7 linked regions of the Homo sapiens genome follow. The protein of the gene in region 2 interacts with the protein of the main gene of each other region in a biochemical or structural test. Each region holds a gene or a part of one and is shown on either strand. Other genes may lie near its edges. The genes, in order: USH1C, TJP2, EZH1, SLC26A3, ACOT6, UQCRC2 and ADGRA2.

Region 1 (3,009 bases), on a different chromosome or scaffold from region 2:
ACATTCCCCCTGCTGGGCCCCCGGAGTTATGCCTTCCTGCCTCAAGCCCTTGCATTTCCCATGAGCTTCTGTGGGATGTGCTTCCACGGAGGGAGTGGACCCTGCCATCTTCCTCCCTCACATGCTGTCGTGGTGACCTCAGGAGAAGCATTGGTGGCTGTGTCGTTCTTGAAAGAAGCTGGGCACCCCATATCATGAGGTGACCCTTCGGGGCTCCTGCCTTCAGCTCTGCTTTCTGGAATTGAGCAAAATCCCTGCCACACAGACTTCATCTCCTACCATCTCTGCTGAGAAGACATTGAAGCCCAGCCCAGCCCATCTCCTGCTTTCTCAACCTCTGCTCCAAGCCAGCCCTGGCCATTTGATCACACCCTTCATGTCAGACCCAGATCACAGCACTGGGATCTGTCTATCACCCTTGAATAGGGGCCACAAACCTTATGGTTTTTTGATTTGCAGCCTTGAATCTGCTGCCCAAATCCACACTCACTCCTATAAGCTGGAAAATAAATCTATTTTATTAATGAGCTCAGAGTAAGGTTTGGAGTGACAATCCTGGCAGCAATTAGAGCAGAGGGCAGAGGAGAGGGATGGAGAGAGAGAGACTCCAGTGGGGTCTTATTAGGGTTCAAGGAAGGAGTCCCCCAGAGCTGGGAGAGACCAAATTCACTGGGCCAGAGGAAAGGAATGAGAGTCTGGATCCTTGAGATCTTCTCCCAAATGGCTGGCTGCTCCCTTTCCTCCACGTTGGCCTTCAGAAGAGTGGCCCGAGCTGTTCCTTATCTGGCCCTGGTTCAGGGCCAAAGGGAGTTTGAGATTCCTGGGTGATAGATTCAGGTCCCAAGGATGCCATCTGGTGTGTGTAGTGTGGCCTCTCTCAAGGCTGATCCGAGGCTTTGTGTTCACGAGGTGGGGCCGGAGCTCACTGTTTCCTAACGGTGAATTTGGTTTCCCCTTTTGGACTTCAGAAGAAGGTCCTGCAGGGAAGTGGAAACAGCCCAGGTGGATACAGGCTTTGTGGGTGCACACTCAGCCCAGCCAGAGCAAGGCCCCACAAGGGGGAGTACCCACTCTGGCAGCACAAGGCCCTGCCACCCTTTGGAGACCCCTCTGGGTGCAGGCCCCAAGTGGCTACACACCAGCCACAGCCACAGCACACAGGAGGCCAGGGAGAAAGCGGGAGGGACACCTGGGATGGGGGAAGGAGGAGACTGGGAGGAACAGGGGCAAGAGTCCTTTGCAAAAGGCAAGTAACAGAAAACATAGGGCCATGCAGGCCACCCCAGAAGCCATGGTCTACCCGGCCAAGTGTCTTGGGAGCATGAGGCCCTAATGTTTTGGGAAAGTTGTAACAGAAAAGTCAAGTCCAGGCTTGGGTCTGCCCCAGATGCTGCCATCTGTGGCTTCAGGCCACACCAAACACCAGTTTCACAGCCACCTGCCAGCTCTGTCCACGGGCACATCCCTATCACAGGGTGAGAAACACATCCTACAGCTGGGTTCCACGGTATATCCCACAGATAGAGCCCAGAGCCAAGGAAGGGAGAAGGCAGAGAAGACCGTTTGGTCTAAGCACGGCTCAGGCCATGACAGGGCACAACAGGACATGAGCAACTCTAATCCACCAACCCTGGTTCTTTGGACCAGCCTTCAAAACCTCTTAATAGCCCTGGTTCTGGCCAAGTGTGGGGGCCATGGTGGAGCAAGAGCTCCCAGGAGGTTGGCATTCACAGGAAGGGGAATTTTCACATTCTGTTGAGGACATCTCTTGGGGGCAATTCCAGCCAGGCTTCCTGTGGGCTCCTTCAGCCCCACATGCCTGGTTCGAGGCATTGTCTGTGTCCCTCAGAGAATGTTGCCCAGGGCTTCATCCTGCTCATTTGGGTGCTGCTTGGGACCCAAAGCAGGTCCCAGGGCCGTGATGAGTCAGGACACCTGGGTCCCAAGCAAGTACTACAGACTGGGCTTTGCACCACTTCCCTGAGGGGAGGGCTTTGAGTCTGAGGAATTCCACTGTGGCCAACAGCAGGCCCCAGGCAGCACTTCAGGGATGGCGCCTTGTGTACCCTCCAGACGCCAGTCCAAAGAACCTGCTGACAGCGTGGGCAGCAGATGGCCACTGCAAGCAGCAGGGACACACAGGGCCCTGTGGCCCGCCTGCCTATTCACCGTGGGCTCCAGCTGCAGGAGGAACCCGTGTCTGTGCACGGCAGCACGGTCTTCAAGGAGCTTTCGGACCGGTTGGGGGCTTTCAGCTACGGAGGAGGGAAGAGAAGCTCTATATATACAGAGCAGAGCAAGAAACACAAAACAGGCTTGGTTACTCCCAGGCAGAGCTCCATGGGGCTTCTCCTTTCACTGGGCTCCTGCCTCGGGTTCTGCCTAGCCCCTGGGTTCCAGAATTAGGAGCTGCGAGACCCTGGTTTCTCCAAGACATGTGTAGAGCTCAGATTCTGCTGGGCACGGGGAGCAAGCAGGCCCAGCCACGACAGGGAGGCAGGGCATGGTCAGTGAGTGGGTGAGTGGTGGGTGGGTGAGGGCTGGGGAGGTGATGGGATGAGGTGAGGATGGAGGTGAGACACCACACAGAGGCAGAGAAACAGAGAAAGGCAGACAAAGAGGTAAGAATGGATGCAGAATGACAAGGACAGAGGAACAGGGACTCAGAGACAGGGATGAAGAGAAACAGGAAGAAAGAATAGGAGACAGTGAGAGAGAAAGGGGACCGGGATGAAGGGGAAGGAGGGGGGCAGATAAGATGTTGACAGGAAGGAAGGAAAGGGTGAAAGAAAGACAGAGAGGGAGGAGGAGAGAAGACAGAGAGACCCACAGGACACAAGAGACAGACACACAGGGAATCACAGAGAGAGACAGTCTAGGCCAAAGCTCCCTGGAGATCCCACAGCGTGGGGACAAAAGCCTGTGGTCCCGGCTGCCTAGAGGCACAGTATGAGTGAATGCAGTTAGACATCAGGAAGACCTTCCAGAGAGTGAAGGATGGACACAGAC
Region 2 (3,500 bases):
TGCTCCCATTTGGAAGTGAAGGTCCCCACATTTCCCACCCTCTGAAACTTCTTCATTGTCAAGCGGAATCTTCTCTGAGCTCAGAAGTAAAATTGACTGGATTTGATTAATGAAATGCATGTTAGCTGCGTTTTCTGGCTTTAGAGATTTACTTCCCGTGGTTTCTTCTCAGAGCTGAACAAATGGCCAGTGTTCAAAATGCCCAGAGAGACAACGCTGGGGACCGGGCAGATTTCTGGAGAATGCGTGGCCAGAGGTCTGGGGTGAAGAAGAACCTGAGGAAAAGTCGGGAAGACCTCACAGCTGTTGTGTCTGTCAGCACCAAGTTCCCAGCTTATGAGAGGGTTTTGCTGCGAGAAGGTGAGGAAGTCACATGGGGCCTGGAAATGAACTGACTGGGCTCTGAGCCTGTTCACCTTTATTTTCAGACTGTATGGTCAAGTTCTAACTTATGTATGTCAGTTATGCCAAAGGCAGTTTATAGAGTTGAAATCAAATTCTAACAAGGAGCATGATTTATAAAAAGCTGTTTCAGTTCCTAAATTGAGGCTTATTTCTGCAACTTAAAAAATGTTTTAATACCACTGTTCAAGAGTTTCGGTATATTGGCTGGGCACTGTACCTTATGCCTATAATCGTAGCACTTTGGGAGGCCAAGGTGGGAGGATCACTTGAGCTCAGAAGTTCAAGACTAGCCTGGGCAATATAGTAAGACCTCATCTCTGCAAAAAATAAAAAAAGTTTCCATATATTATCAATGGGAAAGTTTGTGTTTAAAAATGGTGAGGAGCTAGGCAGTGTAGTCCCAGCTACTCAGGAGGCTTGAGCCTAGGAGTTTGAGTTTAGTCTGGGCAACATAGTGAGATCTTGTCTCTTAAAAAAAAATCTAGGTTAGCATGTGGTTGAATGAAAAGAAAAAAATTGTTTTAAATGGTGAGGATAGTGAAGGCATATTCTTCAGAACAGAGCCAAGCTGAATTGGGGAGAAACCACAGTTTCTTTCGTTTAGTTATGTTATCAAAAGCCCATACAATACTTTTACTGCTTATCATAACAGCTAGGCAAGTGTGTATGCTTTAATGGCCTTTCTTGTCATTTCAGCTGGTTTCAAGAGACCTGTGGTCTTATTCGGCCCCATAGCTGATATAGCAATGGAAAAATTGGCTAATGAGTTACCTGACTGGTTTCAAACTGCTAGTAAGTCTGTCAGTGTTTTTTTTTCCCCCAAATTTTTATTTTGAAAAATTTCTAACAGAGGAGTTGGAAGAATCATGAACACCCACGTACCCTTCACCTGGAATCACCAGTTGCTGACATTTTGTCACGCATTTTCTCTCACCCACTGCCTGCACCATAGACACACATACACACACACATACACATACTCTTTGAAAAATTTCTGCAGAATCATTTATAACACTTTATCCCTGAATACTTGTGTGAATCTCCTAAGAACAAGGACTTTCTCCCACATAACTGCAATACCATTATCACAGCCAAGAAAGGTAACATTGATGTGGTGTGATTTTGTATATAGTCCATTTTCCACGTTTTCTTAATTGTCCTAGTTATGTGCTTCATAGCTTTTTTTTAAATTCAGAATACAACCAAGGACCATTCATGACATTTGATTTTTATGTCTTTTTGTGATTTTTATGTCTTTCCAGTCCCCTCTTTTTTCTAAATAACTTTGTTACACTGATATTTTGAAGAATCCAAGCTAGTTGTCTCCTAGAATGCTTCCTGTTGGACTGGCCTAACCGTTTCTTCATGATTAGATTTCCACTAAGCAGGTTATGTGGGTCCTTCCCACTGAATCTTGTTAGGAGACACTTAATGTCAGGTGTGCCATCATTGCTTGATGCTAGGTGGGAGTATTTGGTTGTCACTGTTTTCTAAACAATTATTTAGCTTCCTGTTTTTGCTTTTGCAGAAACGGAACCAAAAGATGCAGGATCTGAGAAATCCACTGGAGTGGTCCGGTTAAATACCGTGAGGCAAATTATTGAACAGGTGAGAAAATTCATCCACAGACCGTGTTTTCAGAAAGAATTAGATTATGGTTTGCTGCAGTCACTTTTAGGATAGTATCTGTACTTTTAATCATTAAATGTTAATAATAAAAAATTGGCCGGGCACAGTGGCTTACACCTGTAATCCCAACACTTTGAGAGGCTGAGGCGGGTGGATCACCTGAGGTCAGGAGTTCGAGACCAGCCTGGCCAACATGGTGAAACCCTGTCTCTACTAAAAATATAAAAAATTAGCCGGGCACAGTGGCAGGTACCTGTAGTCCCAGCCACTCAGGAGGCTGAGGCAGGAGAATCGCTTGAACTCAGGAGGCGGAGTTTGCAGTGAGCGGAGATTGCACCATTGCACTCCAGCCTGGGCGACGAGTGAAACTCCATCTCAAAAAAATATATATATAATGTAAATGCAAACCGTTTCACTGTGTGGAAACCAGTCACTGTTGGCAGTGAGCGGAGATTGCACCATTGCACTCCAGCCTGGGCGACAAGAGTGAAACTCCATCTCAAAAAAATATATATATAATGTAAATGCAAACCATTTCACTGTGTGGAAACCAGTCACTGTTACTGTTCTCTGGCAGTAACATACTGTTTTTTTTTCCAGAGTTCCCAGCATTATACCAAATAATGTGTTAATTCATTTTATCAGAAGTTCTAACACATTGGTAATATTGAAGTGGGCATTAGGTAGAAGGAAATGTGTTCTGCTTCTTGATTTAAATTTACAAGATAGGTGGCTCATGCCTGTAATCCCAGCACTTTGGGAGGCAGAGGCGGGCGGATCACCTGAAGTCAGGAGTTTGGGACCAGCCTGGCCAACATGGTGAAACCCTGTCTCTACTAAAAATACAAAAATTAGCTGGCCATGGTGGTGGCGGGCACCTGTAATCCCAGCTACTCAGGAGGCTGAGACAGGATAATTGCTTGAACCCGGGAGGCGGAGGTCGCAGTGAGCCAAGTTTGTGCCACTGCACTCCAGCCTGGGCAACAGAGCAAGAATCTATCCCAAATAAGTAAACAAACAAACAAACAAGATATATCTCATACAGCCTTTACTTATTAAAACAAAGTATTTGATGCTATATTACTTTATATATCCATTTCTCTAACTTTTCCCCTTTTGTAAACAGGATAAGCATGCACTACTGGATGTGACTCCGAAAGCTGTGGACCTGTTGAATTACACCCAGTGGTTCCCAATTGTGATTTTTTTCAACCCAGACTCCAGACAAGGTGTCAAAACCATGAGACAAAGGTTAAATCCAACGTCCAACAAAAGTTCTCGAAAGTTATTTGATCAAGCCAACAAGCTTAAAAAAACGTGTGCACACCTTTTTACAGGTAAGTGAAATGTAAATGTAGTCCCTTTGCTAAAAAATGAGAAATAAAGAATTGAAGAGTAGAAGAAATAATTAATTAATCTGAATGGAGAATTTGAAATTGTGTTCATGACTCCTTGAAAAATAGTTA
Region 3 (4,053 bases), on a different chromosome or scaffold from region 2:
CAAGCGATTCTCCCACCTCTGTCTCCCAAGAGCTAGAATTATAGGTGTCCGCCACCACGTCTGGCTAATTTTTTGTATTTTTAGTAGAGATGGGGTTTCACCATATTGGCCAGGCTGGTTTTGAACTCCCCGACCTCAGGTGATCCAACAGCCTCAGCCTCCCAAAGTGCTGGGCTTATAGGTGTAAGCCATCAGCCCAGCCTCTAGTGCTGTTTCAAAGGGCACTAATGTAACCATCATAATGAAGAAGTCATTTACACTTTAAGGAATTTTAAGCTGGGCCTTAGCATCAAGTTCCACGATTAGCATACAAGTACTCTGCCAGTTACTGACAATACTAGCATCCGGATCACCTGACTCCCAGTGCCAGAAATTTCCCCACTATTTATTCCACAAATATATGTTGAGCACCTACTATTATACTTAATAGTAGTATCTACTATGTGTTACCATTTTAGGTGTTTGGGGTACATCAATGAATAAAACATATATCCCTGCCTTTGGAGTTGATTCATTATGTTTGTGACACACAACAATAAGCATAAACCTTGACAATGATAGCATTATTACAGTTTTATAGATAGTCCTTTCTCCTATTATGTATGTGCGTTTTTAAGTACTTCTCTCTCCCTTTTTTTTTTCTTTTTTGAGATGGAGTCTTGCTCTGTCACCCATGCTGCAATGCAGTGGTGCATGTCGGCTCACTGCAACTTCCACCTCCCAGGTTCAAGCGATTCTCGTGCCTCAACCCCCTGAATAGCTGGGATTACAGGCACCCACCACCACGCCCAGCTAATTCTTGTATTTTTGTAGAGAAGGAGTTTCGCCATGTTGCCCAGGCAGCTCTCGGACTCTTGACCTCAAGTGATCCGCCTGCCTTGGCCTCCCAAAGTGCTGGGATTACAGGCCTGAGCCACTGTGCCAGGCCTCCTTTTTTTTTTTTTTTTTTTGACAGAATCTCACTCTGTTGCCCAGGTTGATGTGCAGTGGTGCAATCTCGGCTCACTGCAACCTCCACCTCCCGGTTCAAGCGATTCTAATGCCTCAGCCCTCCCGAGTAGCTGGGACTACAGGCGTGTGCCACCACACCTGATTAATTTTTGTATTTTTAGTAGAGATGGAGTTGTCCCATGTTGCCCAGGCTGGTCTCAAACTCCTGGGCTCGAGTGAACGGTCCACCTCAGCCTCCCAAAGTGTTGGGATTACAGGCATGAGCCACCGTGCCAGGCTTTTTTTTTTTTTCTTGAGACAGGGTCTCAGGTGCTGTCACCCAGACTGGAGTGCAGTGGCAGGATCAGAGCTCATTGCAACCTTGACCTCCCAGTCTCAAGCAATACTCCTGCTTCAGCCTCCCAAGCAGCTGGGACTATAGGAGAAGGCCACCACATCTGGCTATTTTTTTTTTGTAGAGATGAGGTCTCGCTATTGTTGCCTGAGCTGGTCCCAAACTCCTGGGCTCAAGCTATTCTCCTGCCTGGGCCTCCCGAATGCTGGGATTTCAGATATGAGCCACCGAGCCCAGTCTAAAGTACTTATCTCCTAACACACACTCTCTCCTATGTAAGTAATCTCTTTTATCAGTGGCATATCTGGGGATTCCAAGACTTAAAATAGACAAGCTTTCACAGAAACCTCTAATAGGGTTAGCACCTTCTCAGGCTGGAAACCTCCTTCAATATCAGTTTCCTAAATTTAAAAAACATGGGGTGTGGGAATTTTTTTATTCAGCGGCAGTATGGCAGCAAACGTGGAGGAGACTCGCGTTTTCATTGCCATCCTTGCACCCACCTAATTGTTAGTGTACCTGAGCTCCTTTGCTTTCATCCTCCCCTGCCAAGCGTCAGGTTCCTATCGGCCTGGGCTACATCACATACAACCCTGTATTTCACCCTCCATATTCCTTCACATTCCACGGGGGGCACTAACATCCTTCAGGTATCCCTTCCCTTCCCTGCTCAAGAAACAATTCCTCAGTAGTCACTTTTTATTGAAATAAAAGTTTGTCCCACATTTCCTAACAGGCATGTCCCAAATACAACACCTTGTCTGTGCTTCAAGGCACTTTTATTTATATCATTTGATCCTCGGTTGAATGGTGGGGGTGAGCGATCATTGGCGTGAGACCAAAAGTCTGGAGTGAAGGAGATTCTTGCTCAGGGCCAGGCCTGGGGTGAGGCGACCGAGGCACCCAGGACGCACGTGAGGAGGCGCTCACTGCACTTGCGCGACCCTGAGTCAGTGCTCCTTTACACTTTGTGCCTTGGGAGCCTTACTCACCTCACCCTAGTCCCGGCCTTGTTTTTACTGCTACCCCTCCTCAACATCCCCGAAAGCCATCGCAAGATCAGCCCCGGTCTCTAGCCCTCCCCAAGCACAGCTCCAGGTCCCCAGAGTCCACCTCGCTAAAGGCCCCCGCAGGTGCCACCGCCCTCCCGCGCCCTTTGGGCGCTGGGGCTCCCGCCCACCGGCCCACACCGCCATCCAACGGGATTCCCCGTCCCCGAGCCCGCCCCCGCCGCTCCTCCTCCCGGGCACACAGCCCTCGCAGCCCCAGACGCTGTCCTCGCCTGGGTCTCTCTCGCCCCGTCGCCCCCATTCCCCCACCCTCGGAATGAGGAGGGGCGCCTGCTACCCCCGGCCAGGCAGGCAGTGTGTCCCTCGGATTCCTTCCAATTTCCTGATCCCTCCGCCTCTCCCTCCCTCAGGCCCAGGGCGGCGAGGGGAGGAGGCCCGGCCCCACCGCCCGGCCCAGGCTTGTTTACTCACTCACCCTCCATCCCGAGCCGCGGGTCCCGCTGCTAGGACGCATGCGCGCCGCGGCCCCACCCCTGCGCCGTGCCCCGCCCCGCGCCTCCTGTCGGCGCGTGCGCATTGACTTACCCGTGCCGCGCGGACGCACTACTGTCATTTGCCGCCAAAACCCCGCACTCAGGAGTCCTGGCGGGTGCAGCCTCCCAGACGGCTTCCAAAGCGGCGCTGGCAGGGGAGGGGAAGGGCTCTGGGGAAACCTTCGCAGAGCCACTAATATCTTCCTGAAGACCCTATTCAGCGGATTTGCCATCCCCACGCGCTGGTGACAAGCCACATCTCACTTCAGCGTTTGAAGCCAACCCAGATCACCTTCATACCGATGCTTCACCCCTACCAGTTCTCCAGACACCGGTCTATGGGTTCTAAGCCCTTTATTTATGTCTGATCTCCCTATTTCTGTTCATAGTTTTCTAGTCACTTAGAATCAAAATTATAGCCTTGTATCGAAATAAATCCCCACAAGACACCTGCTAGTTACAAAGGGAAAAAAATAGCAACTTTACAGATAAGAATCTGTCAGACACCACCTTAACTAAGTGATCAAAGTTAGCATCACTAGTGATAAGAGGTATTGTTTTCTTCTTCTTTTTTTGCCGGGGGGCGAGGCTGGACGGAGTCTCGCTTTGTTACTTACACAGGCTGGAGTGCCGTGGCGCGATCTCGGCTCACTGCAACCTCTCCCTCCCGGGCTCAAGCAATTCTCCCGCCTCAGCCTCCCAAGTAGCCAGGAATACAGGTTCGTGCCACCACGCCCGGCTAATTTTTGTATTTTTAGTAGAGATGGGGTTTCACCGTATTGGCCAGGCTGCTGTCAAACTCCTGACCTCAAGTGATCTGCCTACCTCGGCCTCCCAAAGTGCTGAGATTACCGGCATGAGCCACCACGCCCGGCCTCCCTCTTCTTTTTAAGGAGACAGGGTCTTGCTGTGTTGCCTAGGCTGGTCTTGAACTCCAGGGTTCAAGCCATCCTCCCACCTTGATTTCCCAAAGTGTTGGGATTACAGGCATGAGCCATTGCCCCCAGCTGAGAGGTATTCTTACCAGGTCCCTCTGAACATGATGCAATGAGAAGCGCACAAAATCACTTCTGTGGTATTCTTGACGAACACGCATAAGCTGATTTTTTGTGCGTGTTGTTTGTTTGTTTGTTTTGAGACAGTTTCACTCTTGTTGCCTAGGCTGGAGTGCAATGGTGCAATCTCGGCTCACTGCAATCTCTGCCTCCTGGGTTCAAGCGATTCT
Region 4 (3,500 bases), on a different chromosome or scaffold from region 2:
TTTTGAAAAGAGATAATAGTGTCAGAAGATACTAAAGTTAAAAACAAGGCTCTGTGACAGAAATAAACCCAAACAAAAGAACCCTTCTCCTCAGTAAGAAGTTAAAAATGATCATTCTTGAAGGAAGTATTATGGGAAAATGTTCTGTCTCAAACTCATAAGAACAACTCTGATTTAATTTTAAAATAGTGTCTTCTTTGGGATGATCTCAACTAGAGCTTTCTTGCTACATAAAAGTTTTAAAAAAGAACCTATGGACCATGAGTTGCTAATTATTTTTGTCCACAATGAATGGATGTATCTAGCACCAATGAATGTTTATACATTTTTCTGGTCTCTAGGCTAAGAACAAATACCAGTAGTGATATGAGTAAGATCATGTAAAGTAAGAAAAGTAGCTTATATTGTTTGATCAGGTTAGATGATCATTAATGTCATTGCCATCATCAGTAAACACTTTCAGAACCTCTTCTAGGCACTTAACTAAGAATTAGAGCCCCTGTCCTTTGTGTTATACTGCTAGAACCAAAAAATAAATGTGTGTGTGTGTGTGAGTGAAAATGCAGAAACAAAAGCTAAAGTAATCAAAAGCTAAAATAAACAAAAACCAAAACCAAAAAAGAAAAGAAAACGCAAGTAGACTTGAGAGTTACATGATGTTAACATTTAAAAAAAATTCTTCCATTTTCTAATTTTGTATCCAGTTCACCCATGCTGAATAGGTCTTATCTTAGGTCAGCTCTCACTTGGGCAGATTTTTTGTGAAAACCCAAGAAAAAGAGAGAAAGATGTAGAATTTCTTAAATTTTCTTTTTATATGTTTCTGCATTTCTGTTAGAAACTAATTTATTTTAGAAATATGATTAATCTGTGGAAAGAAAACACACTGCAATCTGATTGTTTCAGTCGTGTTTTGAAATCACATGTGACATTTATTCTTTCATATATCTATTTGGGTTTTAGCCAAGTGAAATTTCATCAGCTTATAATGGATGAGGATAAAACAAAAGGATCCACTCTTACATTTTTTCCCAGGACCTTTCCAGATCTTCTCTGATTTCAGAATAATTTAGACACAATGCCCACAAAGATTTGAGAACACCACAGAATTGAAATTTGAAAGGAATGTGAGCATAGTTGTCCACCAGCAGATTCAGCATACGTTAGAACTGTAGATTTGATTCCCTTCAATATAGTACCCAGTCTCATGGAAAAATGCCCTTTCAAGAGTCCACTGAACACCACCTTTCCCTCCATGGAATACTCTAAGATTATCATTTGCTTCTAATTAAATGCATGTTACCTAAAGGAGCATCCTTCCACAAATACAGTTTTTTTTGTTGCTGTTTTTGAGACAGAGTCTCACTGTATTGCTGGAGTGCAGTGGTGCAATTTCGGCTCACTGCAATTGCCACCTCCCAGGTTCAAGCTATTCTCCTGCCTCAGCCTCCCGAGTAGCTGGGATTACAGGTGCACGCCACCACACCCAGCTGATTTTTGTATTTTTAGTAGAGACGGGGCTTCGCCATGTTGGCCAGGCTGGTCTCGAAGTCCTGACCTCAGGTGATCCACCCACCTCGGCCTCCCAAAGTGCTGGGATTACAGGCATGAGCCACTGTGCCCAGCCCACAAATACAATTTTTTTTTTAACCTTTAGTCATTGATTGGTTGTTTCCATTAAGAACAAAGAAATTACCGATTTAAGGCCCCTCACTGAAGAAACATCAAGAAAGGACACTGCTGAAAAGTCAAGAATGAGGCTGTGGAGGCTGATTTTGGGGACCTCAATGTTGAGAGGAAGATCATCATTCCAGTCAATGTGGAAAGGCAGGTCTGTGGTATTGATTGGCTGGTCCAGTACTTCTATCTGATTGTTGTCCAGCTCTTCGTCAGAATCTTTTATGGTGTCAACAGTACATATAAATCCTTTCTGCAGGAGAGGATAACAAGTATGAAAACTGTGACCAAGAAAAACATTGTGTATGTCAGAGATAGCCAGTGAGTTTCAGAAGCACTGATTCTGAGTTGAGCCAAACGATGGGATTGGACTAGGTGTGGTGGCTCATGCCTGTCATCCCAGCACTTTAGGAAACTGAGGTGGGAGGATCACTTGAGCCCAGGAGTTTGAGACCAGCCAGGGCAACATGGTAAGACTCCATCTCTGCAAAAAATAAAAAAGTTAGCCAGGCATGGTGGCACATGTGCTTGTAGTTTCAGCTACTTGGGAGGCTGAGGTGGGAGGGTCGCTTGAGTCTGGGAGGTCAAGGCTGCAATGAGCTGTGATCGCACCACTGCGCTCCAGCCTAGGCCACAGAGCAAGACACTGTCTCAAACAACAACAAGATTGTGGACAATTGTGTTTGGTACTTTTCCCAGGAGAATAAAAATTTTAGGGAGACCCTCAGAAGGATGTCATTTTAAAATATAACACTCATTGACACATGAAATCCCTTGTTTATCTGGCATTTCATTTAAAGGAATGGAACTACACCTTGAATCATCCTTTACTAAGCTTTTAGCTATAATGCATAGAAATGTGGTCAAGGAACTTACTGGTGTCACTTGTAGCAAGCCTTGCTTCTGCAGTTTTCGGATTTTCCTCAAAGCTTTGTTGCGCTTGCGTAGAATTCGAAGTGGACTAAAGCCAACCTGAGAAACCCATTGCTGTGTTACAAGAGTACTGAATATTCTGTTATTTATATAGCATAGTTCTAACAACTTTAACTGGAGTGATTTGAGGGATTGGGACAGATAATAAAAATATTTGTGACAAAATTTAAAAGTGGTTTAAACAATATCAGCCAGAACATTGGGTCAGACCCATGGTCTGCTCCACCTGTATGCAGTTATCAACAGTCAAAAGCTTTTGTATAACACAGTCCAGGATTCATCCATAAATTATCCATGAATGGACATAAACTCTATTTGAATCTGTTTGTGTTTGGAACCTACACAACTCTTAGGGAATTTTATTTTACTTATTTTCTATTTATTGAGTACGAGTTGCACCTACATAAGTATTCTGCTTGTATGTAATTTTTATCTTATTAAAATTTATAATGGTATGTTATTTATTATTGTACAATTTTATTTTATAATTTTAGTATTATATTTGAGGCTAATCTTTGTTTTTTTCAACACTAATGAATTCTTATTGCTGTAATATTTAGTTACAGATAAGTAAGAGAGGAGGATCAAATTATGTAATAAAAAATCCTTGGCCAGGCGTGGTGGCTGAAGCCTCTAATCCTAGCACTTTGGGAGGCCGAGGTGGGAGGATTGCGTGAGGCCACGAGTTCAAGGCCAGCCTGGGCAACAAAGCAAGCCCTCGTCTCTACAAAAGATTTAAAACTTAGCACTTAGCGGGGTGTAGTGGCACATGCCTGGAGTCTCATCTACTTGGGGGGCTGAGGTAGGGGGATTGCTCAAACCCAGGAGTTTGAGGTTGCAGTGAGCTGTGATCATGCCAGCCTGGGTGACAAAGCGAGACCTTGTCTCAA
Region 5 (2,436 bases), on a different chromosome or scaffold from region 2:
GGCTGGTCTCAAACTCCTGACCTCAGGTGATCTGCCCGCCTTGGCCTCCCAAAGTACTGGGATTACAGACGTGAGCCACCGCACCTGGCCAAAATGTTTTAATTAATTAATTATTTCTGTTATCAGATAAGGACTTTCTTTACAAAACCATAATACCATTATCATACCCAACAAAATTAATGATTACTTCATATAATCAAATACACCATTCTCATTCAAATGTCTCCAGTTGTCTCAAAAAATATCTCTTTATAGTCATTTTCTCTATATACATTTACATTAATCTTATTAAGGAGGAAAATTGAACTCCAGAGAGAGTAACTGCCTTATTCAGAATCATAAGGCCACTCTGTGGTAGATGCAGAGCTGGAACTTTTTTTAGTCCTGTGCTCTTTGAATTTTGGTCCACAATTACAAAGACAACTAAATAGTCAAGTCTTCAGGGATTAGAGAGAGATGGGAGAAAATGGAAATAATAATCCTAGTACAAAAACTTTTTTTGAGACAGGGGTCTCACTAAATGTTGCCCAGGCTGGTCTTGAACTCCTGGGGTCAAGCAATCCCCCGGCCTCAGCCTCCCAGGTAGCTGGGACTACAGGTGCACATCACCATGCCCAGCTTCCACCCTAGTAACCTTTGAAGGAGACTTGGTATCTCCTGGCATGTTTCTAGTTCTCAGTGTTCTGGCAGGGCTTTTGGATTCAGCCCTGCATCAGCTCTATCCCCTCTCTTCTGCACTCAGGTGATCACCAGAACGCACCTTTGGATGCTGCAGCATAAAGTCCACGGCTTCTTCAAAGTACTCCAGATGTACATCATTCAGATCTTCGGGGAGGTCTTCAAATCTGAAATAAGCCAGGGCAAGCACAGCAAAACCATGTCCGGCCAGGAGGCTGGCCCTGTATTCACAAAGGCCCCTGCTGCTCCCAAACAGATCAATGATCCCAGGAAAGGGCCCCCTGCCTGGAGAACATCACAAATCACAGGGAGCTTTAGTTTCTCAAAAGACAGTAAGCAAACAAGTTTTTGAAGCCAAGGAGATTGGGGGTAGAGAGATTGGCAGAGAAAGAACAAAATGTCTTATTTTCTCAAACAATAATGATAATATAGAGGGATAAAAAACTACATATTGGGTACAATGTATACTACTCAGGCGACAGGTGCACTAAAATCTCAGCGTTCATCACTGTACAGTTCATCCGTGTAACCCCAAACCACCTGTACACCAAAAGGTATTGAAATTAAAAAAAAAATTTTTTTTTGACAGTCTCACTCTGTCGCCCAGGCTGAAGTGCAGTGGTGCAATCTCAGCTCACTGCAACCTCTGCCCCCTGGGTTCAAGCAATTCTCCTGCCTCAGCCCCCCAAGTATCTGGAATTACAGACATGCAACAGACACCCGGCTAATTTTTTTTGTATTTTTAGTAGAGACTGGGTTTTGCCATGTTGGCCAGGCTGGTCTTGAACTCCTGACCTCAGGTGATCTGCCCACCTTGGCCTCCCAAAGTGCTGCGATTACAGGTGTGAGCCACCGCAACCGGCCTAAAACTTTTTAATGATATAAATTATTGTCACACCACTGCACTCCAGCCTGGGTGACAGAGTGAGACTCTATCTCAAAAATAATAATAATAATAATATTATTTTCACAAACAAAAATAAACCAAGTTAGAAATAACATAATGAGGCCAGGTGTGGTGGTTCATGCCTATAATCCCAGTGCTTTGGGAGGTCAAGATAAGAGGACCACTTGAGGCCAGGAATTCACGACCAGCCTGGGCAACATAACAAGACCCATCTCTACAAAAAAGTTTAAAAAACTAGCTGGGCATGATGGCACTTGCCTATAGTCTTAGCTACTCAGGAGGAAGAGGCGGGAGGATCATCTGAGCCCAAGAGTTCCAGTTTGTGGTGACCTGTGATCACACCACTGCACTGTAGCCTGTAGATCACTGTAACCTTGAATCCTTGGGCTCAAGTGACCCTCCAGCCTCAAGAAGCCACCCTCCCAAGTAGCTAGGCCCCTATGCTTGGCTAATTTTTAACTTTTTATAGAAATAGGGTCTCACTATGCTGCCTGGGCTAGTCTCAAACTCCTGGCCTCAAGCAATCCTCCCACTGCAATGCTCCCACCTCGGCCTCTTCAAGTGCTGGGATTTTAAGTGCGAGCCACTGCACTCAGCCTGTTTGTTTGTTTGTTTGTTTGTTTGTTTGTTTGTTGAGACAAGGTTTCACTCTTGTTGCCCAGGCTGCAGTGCAATGGTGCGATCTCGGCTCACTGCAACCTCCGTCTCCCCCCGGGTTCAAGCGATTCTCCTGCCTCAGCCTCCCGAGTAGTTGGTATTACAGGCATGTGCCACCACACCTGGCTAATTTTGTATTTTTAGTAGAGATGGGGTTTCACCATGTTGGTGAGGCTGGTCTCAAACTCCTGACC
Region 6 (3,500 bases), on a different chromosome or scaffold from region 2:
TTTTTAAGAGACAGGGTCTTGCTCTGTTGCCCAGGCTAGTGTGCAATGGCGTGATCTTAGTTCACTGCAGCCTCAAACTCGTGGGCTCAAGCAATCCCCCCTCTTCAGCCTCCTGAGTAGCTGAGGCTACAGGCACACACTACCACACCTGGCTAGTTTTAAATATCTTTTTGTAAAGACAGTGTCTTGCCACATTACCCAGGCTGGTTGAACTCCTGGCCTCAAGTGATCCTCCTGCCCCAGCCTCCCAAAGTCCTGGGATTACAGGTATGAGCAACTGCGCCTAGTCAAATGTATTATTTAAACATACACACATACACACACTCTAACATGGAGTCTTTCGTTATGTTTATAACTCTTAACTTAGTTGGGAATCTACACCAAGAAAGTAATACGAAACACAAAAATATTTTAAGCCCAAAGATATCTTTATAACTGCAGAAAATGCACAAGTGTATTTTGACACACCAATGAATATTGTTTAAATTTTTAGTAATTTGAATCAATGGAAACAGAATCATTGCTAGGGAAATCAGAGATCATTTTTGTCTTTTATTTGTAATTTTCAAACTTCTATAATAAGGATGCTATTTAAATAAGATAAAAAAGTATACAGATGGTCCCTAACTTAACTTATGATGGTTTGACTTATGTTTGTTTGGCTGGATGACTGGGTTATTAGGGTATTAAATGCATTTTCGATATGCGCATTTCTCAGGACGTAACCCCAGTGTAAGTCAAGCAGCATCTATATATACAATATTAACAATTATGTTTAAAAATGCATGATCAATAAACTAAGAAAAATGTTAACAATTATTCTCTAATTTTGGTGGAGACGAGGTCTTGCTATGTTGCCCAAGCTGGTCTCAAACTCCTGGTCTCAAATGAACCACCTGCCTTGGCCTCCCAAAGTGCTGGGATTAGTGAGCCACTGTGCCTGGCCAAAATGTTAACAATTATATCTTTAGGTGGTAGGATATGGGTATGTTTCCCTTTTTACGCTTTTCTGTACTTCTCAGTCCTTATGAGCATAGATTGTAATATTGTTATAATCTGAAAAGAATACAACTTTCAAATAACAAAAACATAAAACACAGTTAATACTGAGACTTACTTGGCAGCTTGGACATCTGTGTTGGAAAGGTTTCCTTGAGCTATTGTTTTTACTTGATTATAGGCAGCCTTGATAACCTAGGACAGATAAGAAAAGTTGGTCATCTGTGGTCAGTACCAGAGTCTCCTGCAGCACTGACACACTTCTTTACTGAGGCAAAAACACAGATGGAAGGTTAGTTCCAGACAAACAGCACAGTGTCCATGCGGAATGCTGTCATCACTATGGGTTCCTTATTCTTCCTATGTTCATAAAGCAGCTGTTTATACACAATCCTCCTGCCCCAGCCTCCCAAGAAGCTGGGACTACAGGTGCATGCTACCAGGCCTGGCTAATTTTTTAGCTTTTTTTGTAGAGATGTGTGGGCTCAAGTGATCCTCCCACCTTAACCTCCCAAAGTGTTGGGATTATAGGTGTGAGCCACCACACCCGGCCAAACACATGGATTTCTAATCACCCATAAAGAATAAGCACCTTTAAAACTTCCCCAGACTCTTGCAGTGTCATGCCATTAATACTGCTATCTCTTACTATTCACTAAGAAGAGAGTAGTAATCCATACACAGCCAATTTGTAAGGCTTGTCCATACTTTGTAAGCCAGGGTCAAGAAGGAATCTGAATCCTTGTATGGTATTTAAAAAAAGAAAGAAAGAATAAAGTTCCGGGGATGTGGGTACTTGGTAAATATTTGTTGAATAAATAAATAAATCTGACCATGATTTTCTCCATCCCAGTGCTGGCTGGGTCTGCTACTTATTTTTCCCTCTGATCACCTAAATTCTAGGACCTCTGTTTCCCCTTCATTTTAGCTGCCCATTTTCAGAGCCACACCCCAGACCTGATCATAGCCTAAATTTGCATACCTCTGAAGCCCTCAATTCTAAGACCCCGACCTCAGTCTTTAATCTCACTATCCTTATTCTTCCACTTTATCAAGATCTCTAGTTCCTTGACTTGTCCAGTCTTTCAATTTATCAGGCCCCCTCTGGCTTCACTTCTCTATTGAGCCTAGATCCCTGAATCATCCTTTTAATCACTCTTGCCAATGCTCCCAACTCCCTTGCTATCTCCTCATACTTCTCACCTGCCCACTTTGCAGGATTCCAACCTGGGATTAACCCTAATACCTACCTCCTCCATTTCTCTATTAGGCTTCTGAATGCAACTGAAGAAAAATTACATGACAGTGCTGACTGACTGTACTATGAATTTGTGGTCGCTGATTTCAAGGATACATCTACACTACAGCGAATACCCACTTTTTGTGTACCTCACTATTTGTCTGTCCCAAACTTCACTACTTTCTTTAAACTTTCCTCTCACGTCTGTCAAAACATGACTTAGCCTCCTGTCTCACTGAGGAGGTACTTCCCCATCTTCCCAATATCTTCCAATATTAGCCTGTCTGTAAGGCTAAAAGGTCCACTTGTGTGCTGGATCCCAAGTATTCCTTTCTCAGACTTGAGCCATTTATAATTTTCTATCTCCGATATCTGCTCCGATCTTTTTGCTCAGTATGTCTCTTTCAACCTAATCTCTCAGTGTAAACTCTCCTAAAACAACTTGCTCCTTGAATGTCTAAGCTCCACTAGCCCACACCAACCTCTCATTTCTTACTTGTCATTCATTCCTTAATCACTACACATTTTACCCAATTTCCACTACTCTAGTCAAAACTGTTAAGATCACCCATGATGTCCTAGCTTGCTGAAACTACCAGACTTCTCAGTGGTAATGAATGTTATTTCACTGTGGGTCAAAATGGTGTTAAACATACTCTCTTTCCTATCCTTCAAATATATCAGCTTCTCTTTTTCTTTCTGTTTACCTGGGCCATTTTTCTTAGCCACTTGCTCCTTAAATGGTGTTGTTTCCCAGAAATTGAGCTTTAGTTTTCTTTTCCTACAATCATTCACACATATCCCTGATTTCAACACAATCTCTACACTGAAGACTTGCAAATAAACCTCCTGGTCTTCCCCTCTCCTGGGTTCTCAATTTAGATGTCTCAGAGCCAACTCAATGCAACTTGTCCAACCAGAACCAAAACATGAAGGAGGCAATTCTCTCCTCTTTCCTGGAAGCATTAGTATACATGTGTAAATTTCCCTATAGCAGATAATGCTTCAATGACATCATACTATACAGAGCTCTGATAAGTCATTGCACTGCATTCAAACATTCCATATTTTAACCGAAAACATGTTTATGGCGGGGGGGAGAAATAACTTGTTCATGAAAGAAGTTTGGTGAGTTTGCAACTTACATCTCCAGCAGCTGTGGCCTGGGAGATAGTATAAATCCCAAAGAGTCCAGAATCTGAGTAACTGGCATTAAATGCAGAAACCTGAAAGATAATGAGACTTTACTGTATGATATTCT
Region 7 (3,514 bases), on a different chromosome or scaffold from region 2:
CGCACAAGAGCCGGGCCAAGGGACACCGCGCGGGGGAGGCCTGCGGCAAGAACCGGCTCAAGGCCCTGCGCGGGGGCGCGGCGGGGGCGCTGGAGCTGCTGTCCAGCGAGAGCGGCAGTCTGCACAACAGCCCCACCGACAGCTACCTGGGCAGCAGCCGCAACAGCCCGGGCGCCGGCCTGCAGCTGGAAGGCGAGCCCATGCTCACGCCGTCCGAGGGCAGCGACACCAGCGCCGCGCCGCTTTCTGAGGCGGGCCGGGCAGGCCAGCGCCGCAGCGCCAGCCGCGACAGTCTCAAGGGCGGCGGCGCGCTGGAGAAGGAGAGCCATCGCCGCTCGTACCCGCTCAACGCCGCCAGCCTAAACGGCGCCCCCAAGGGGGGCAAGTACGACGACGTCACCCTGATGGGCGCGGAGGTAGCCAGCGGCGGCTGCATGAAGACCGGACTCTGGAAGAGCGAAACTACCGTCTAAGGTGGGGCGGGCGACGCGGTAGACGGGCTGGCCACGCGGCTCGTTCCCCCGCTCCTCGGGGCCCTCCAAGGTGTCTCCGTAGTCAGCAGGTTGGAGGCAGAGGAGCCGATGGCTGGAGGAAGCCCACAGGCGGATGTTCCCCACTTGCCTAGAGGGCATCCCTCTGGGGTAGCGACAGACAATCCCAGAAACACGCATAATACATTTCCGTCCAGCCCGGGGCAGTCTGACTGTCGGTGCCCTCCCAGGAACGGGGAAGGCCTCCGTCTGTGTGAAAGGGCACAGCACATCCCAGGTGCACCCTCCCCAAGTACTCCCACCCCGCCTACTGTCCATGCGGCCTCACTGGGGGCCATCAGCCTCACCAGCAAAGCAGAGATGAGAGCGTGGGAACTGTGTTCTTTCCTCCCTGCCCTCTACTGATTTCAGCCCAGCCCCTGCCTAGATCCTAGGTCCCTTTTCCTCCCGAGTTTGGCTGGCACGAGAGCTAGCCCAGCACATGAAGCAGGTGATGTTAAGTCACAAGGTGCTGCTTTTCAGATCCACTATGCAAGAGGGGAGGGTGGGGCCACGTGAAAGGCAGCTCTAGACATCAACCAGTCCTGGGGGAGGGGAGTGGGAACCGGGCACAACTAGGAACAATGCCACCATTCCCACAGGAGTGGTACTTAAACCAGACAGCAGGGTTCAGAGGTGGCACACCGGGACAAAGCTGAGGCCCTGCACCTCAACAGCTGACTGCCAGGTGCCTGTGGGTGAACTGAGGGGAGTAGAGGGAGAGGGCAGGTGGAACTGGGGCAGAATCTAGTCATGCCCTAAAGCTAGTCCTGTAAACAATGGTGCCCCAGAAAGCTGCAGGTGGTGTTTGGAGAAGCAGTTACTTTTCAGTTACAAGACCCATCTCCCTAGTCTCAGCCTTACAACACCACGGGACTAAGGAAGAGCACTTCCTTGCCTCCGTAAGGCCAGAGGAAGAACCATCCCAATCATTTGATCTCCAGCTCCACAGTAGAGAGAAACCTACAAAATGTCAAACCAGCTTCCCGACTCCCAGGAGCTCAAGCCAAGCCCAGAGGCAGTGGCTGGGGTCCCTGCAGGTCATGAGGGGCCTATGCCTTTACTCCTTTTAAACACCAGCACCCGTCTTTTCCCCAACCTAAAACCAACCACCAGCATTTCACTACAGGACCAAATGGAAACCGAGGGAACCCTGGGTCTTGGGAAGAACAACAGGAAACCAAGGTCTGACCTAGGGTTCCCTCCCAGTCTTCACATCACTCTGGCCTCATCACCAAGGTGACAGAGGACACAGGGGAGGGGGAAAACCCACACACACTCCTTGGAATGGGTCCTGTTATTTATGCTTGCTGCACAGACATATTAGAAGAAAAAAAAAAGCTTTGTATTATTCTTCCACATATGCTGGCTGCTGTTTACACACCCTGCCAATGCCTTAGCACTGGAGAGCTTTTTGCAATATGCTGGGGAAAGGGGAGGGAGGGAATGAAAGTGCCAAAGAAAACATGTTTTTAAGAACTCGGGTTTTATACAATAGAATGTTTTCTAGCAGATGCCTCTTGTTTTAATATATTAAAATTTTGCAAAGCCCTTTGAGCTACTGCCTTAGTCTACCCACTGTCCTTTTGTTATGAGGTAGAGGATCTCATGACACCATACACACAAACCCATCATTGCCTGTGAATGCACGTAGGGCCAGAATTCCCCAGTTCCCGCTCCTCTGAGGGTTGATACTGCTGGGAATGCCAACCACTCCACAAGCAGAGGGAAGCCCCCTCAGGCCTGCAGGAGGAGCCGCAGCAGTGTGTCCAATTCAAACCAGCAGCAAAGAGCCTGACATTTTCCCATCCATCTATGAGGAAAGCCATCTCACAGAACATGGACATAGGCAACTTGCTCTCCCACACCAAGGGATGGGAATCTCTCCTACCTATAGTCATCCCTGCACTCCTGACTTTACTCCAGGACCCAGGGTCCAACTAATGGCAGAGCCCCTCTTGGTTCCTTCAAACAAGAAAAGCAATACCTACGGACTGGTGTACACTTCCATCCTTGGTTATAACAGGAATGTTATCAAGCTGTCAGAACAGGATGAAGTGCTCCCAGTGGATATCCATCAGGGAGGGTTAGGGACACTCGTGGCAGCCTGTCTAGCAGCCTGGGCTCTCTGAAAGTCCCTAACTTCCTGAGGGGTACGCAAATACTGTTCTATTTCACTATCAGAAATGTTCTCATCTCCAGTGACAGTGGAGACAGGGGGTACAGGGCAGATCCGCTTCGGGGACTTCAACATGCAGGGTGGCAAGAGAAGGGCAGGACTGGCCGGCCGCTTCCCCTGGGGTAAACCTAAGGAATTATTTCCCACCTCCCCTTCTCCTTGCCCCTGTCCCCACCCCGGTGGCTCCTTCTCTCGGGTCTCCACTTCTGCTGTCCCATCCCGAAAGGCAGAGCGGACCAGTGACTGGCGGTGCTGGAGAAGGTCACCGATGTGCTTCACCACAGACCGTTTGTCAAGTCTCAGAACTCGTAACCAGGCCAGCTGCTCAGCCATCCGCAGCAGCACAGCCAGCAGCTCCTGCAGGCGGGAGGACGCCGGGTAGGGCAGGTCCACATTTGCCAATTTACAAAATCGGGCAAGGGAACATGAAAGCCGATCTGCAGGCTGCAGCGACTGCCAAGCCAGGAAAGTCGCAGCAGTGATGACGGGCAAGGGATGCCTCCCGGTCACCAGCCACGTCTCATTTGCCAGCTCCACCAACTGCATTGTTCGAGACAGCATCTTCTCTTTGTCTTCCACGTATTTGGCTGGCACAGAAGGTGAAGCTTGGAACAGTTTGAAGCTGAAATAACCAAAATGAGGGTTGGATCTTAATGATATAGGGGCTGCTCTCCCACAGTGAGGAAAGACAGCCCACTCAAGATGGGGAAGCTATTCTGCCCTCAGGAATACTCAAGCTCACTGGGCAGCAAGTTAATAAAGGTAGTGAGAGAAAACAGGGCGTCTTCCGCTTGTTAGGGGAAGG

What was found.
Region 1: the proteins of TJP2 (region 2) and USH1C interact in a test that uses a peptide from one of them, tested with the Homo sapiens proteins (one large-scale study listed by IntAct).
Region 3: the proteins of TJP2 (region 2) and EZH1 interact in a test that uses a peptide from one of them, tested with the Homo sapiens proteins (one large-scale study listed by IntAct).
Region 4: the proteins of TJP2 (region 2) and SLC26A3 interact in a test that uses a peptide from one of them, tested with the Homo sapiens proteins (one large-scale study listed by IntAct).
Region 5: the proteins of TJP2 (region 2) and ACOT6 interact in a test that uses a peptide from one of them, tested with the Homo sapiens proteins (one large-scale study listed by IntAct).
Region 6: the proteins of TJP2 (region 2) and UQCRC2 interact in a test that uses a peptide from one of them, tested with the Homo sapiens proteins (one large-scale study listed by IntAct).
Region 7: the proteins of TJP2 (region 2) and ADGRA2 interact in a test that uses a peptide from one of them, tested with the Homo sapiens proteins (one large-scale study listed by IntAct).

What each region holds. Positions count from the first base shown.
Region 1 is NC_000011.10:17,493,400-17,496,408, forward strand, and holds the end of USH1C (harmonin), read right to left. Parts: intron 2,279-3,009; coding exon 2,170-2,278; coding exon of another isoform or gene 1,954-2,169; exon of another isoform or gene 1,014-1,953; intron 978-1,013; coding exon 933-977; 3' UTR 501-932; downstream 1-500. UniProt on the Homo sapiens protein: Anchoring/scaffolding protein that is a part of the functional network formed by USH1C, USH1G, CDH23 and MYO7A that mediates mechanotransduction in cochlear hair cells. Required for normal development and maintenance of cochlear hair cell bundles.
Region 2 is NC_000009.12:69,236,777-69,240,276, forward strand, and holds part of TJP2 (tight junction protein 2), read left to right. Parts: intron 1-172; coding exon 173-360; intron 361-1,101; coding exon 1,102-1,197; intron 1,198-1,933; coding exon 1,934-2,013; intron 2,014-3,160; coding exon 3,161-3,371; intron 3,372-3,500. UniProt on the Homo sapiens protein: Plays a role in tight junctions and adherens junctions. Acts as a positive regulator of RANKL-induced osteoclast differentiation, potentially via mediating downstream transcriptional activity.
Region 3 is NC_000017.11:42,742,241-42,746,293, forward strand, and holds the start of EZH1 (histone-lysine N-methyltransferase EZH1), read right to left. Parts: upstream 2,801-4,053; 5' UTR 2,778-2,800; coding exon of another isoform or gene 2,771-2,777; intron 1-2,770.
Region 4 is NC_000007.14:107,772,224-107,775,723, forward strand, and holds part of SLC26A3 (chloride anion exchanger), read right to left. Parts: intron 2,650-3,500; coding exon 2,554-2,649; intron 1,931-2,553; coding exon 1,697-1,930; intron 1-1,696. UniProt on the Homo sapiens protein: Mediates chloride-bicarbonate exchange with a chloride bicarbonate stoichiometry of 2:1 in the intestinal epithelia. Plays a role in the chloride and bicarbonate homeostasis during sperm epididymal maturation and capacitation.
Region 5 is NC_000014.9:73,615,517-73,617,952, reverse strand, and holds part of ACOT6 (acyl-coenzyme A thioesterase 6), read right to left. Parts: intron 1,110-2,436; exon of another isoform or gene 960-1,109; coding exon 761-959; intron 1-760. UniProt on the Homo sapiens protein: Catalyzes the hydrolysis of acyl-CoAs into free fatty acids and coenzyme A (CoASH), regulating their respective intracellular levels.
Region 6 is NC_000016.10:21,973,861-21,977,360, reverse strand, and holds part of UQCRC2 (cytochrome b-c1 complex subunit 2, mitochondrial precursor), read right to left. Parts: intron 3,466-3,500; coding exon 3,385-3,465; intron 1,195-3,384; coding exon 1,118-1,194; intron 1-1,117. UniProt on the Homo sapiens protein: Component of the ubiquinol-cytochrome c oxidoreductase, a multisubunit transmembrane complex that is part of the mitochondrial electron transport chain which drives oxidative phosphorylation.
Region 7 is NC_000008.11:37,841,883-37,845,396, forward strand, and holds the end of ADGRA2 (adhesion G protein-coupled receptor A2 precursor), read left to right. Parts: coding exon 1-473; 3' UTR 474-2,607; downstream 2,608-3,514. Other genes in the region: BRF2 (transcription factor IIIB 50 kDa subunit), read right to left, coding at 2,608-3,331.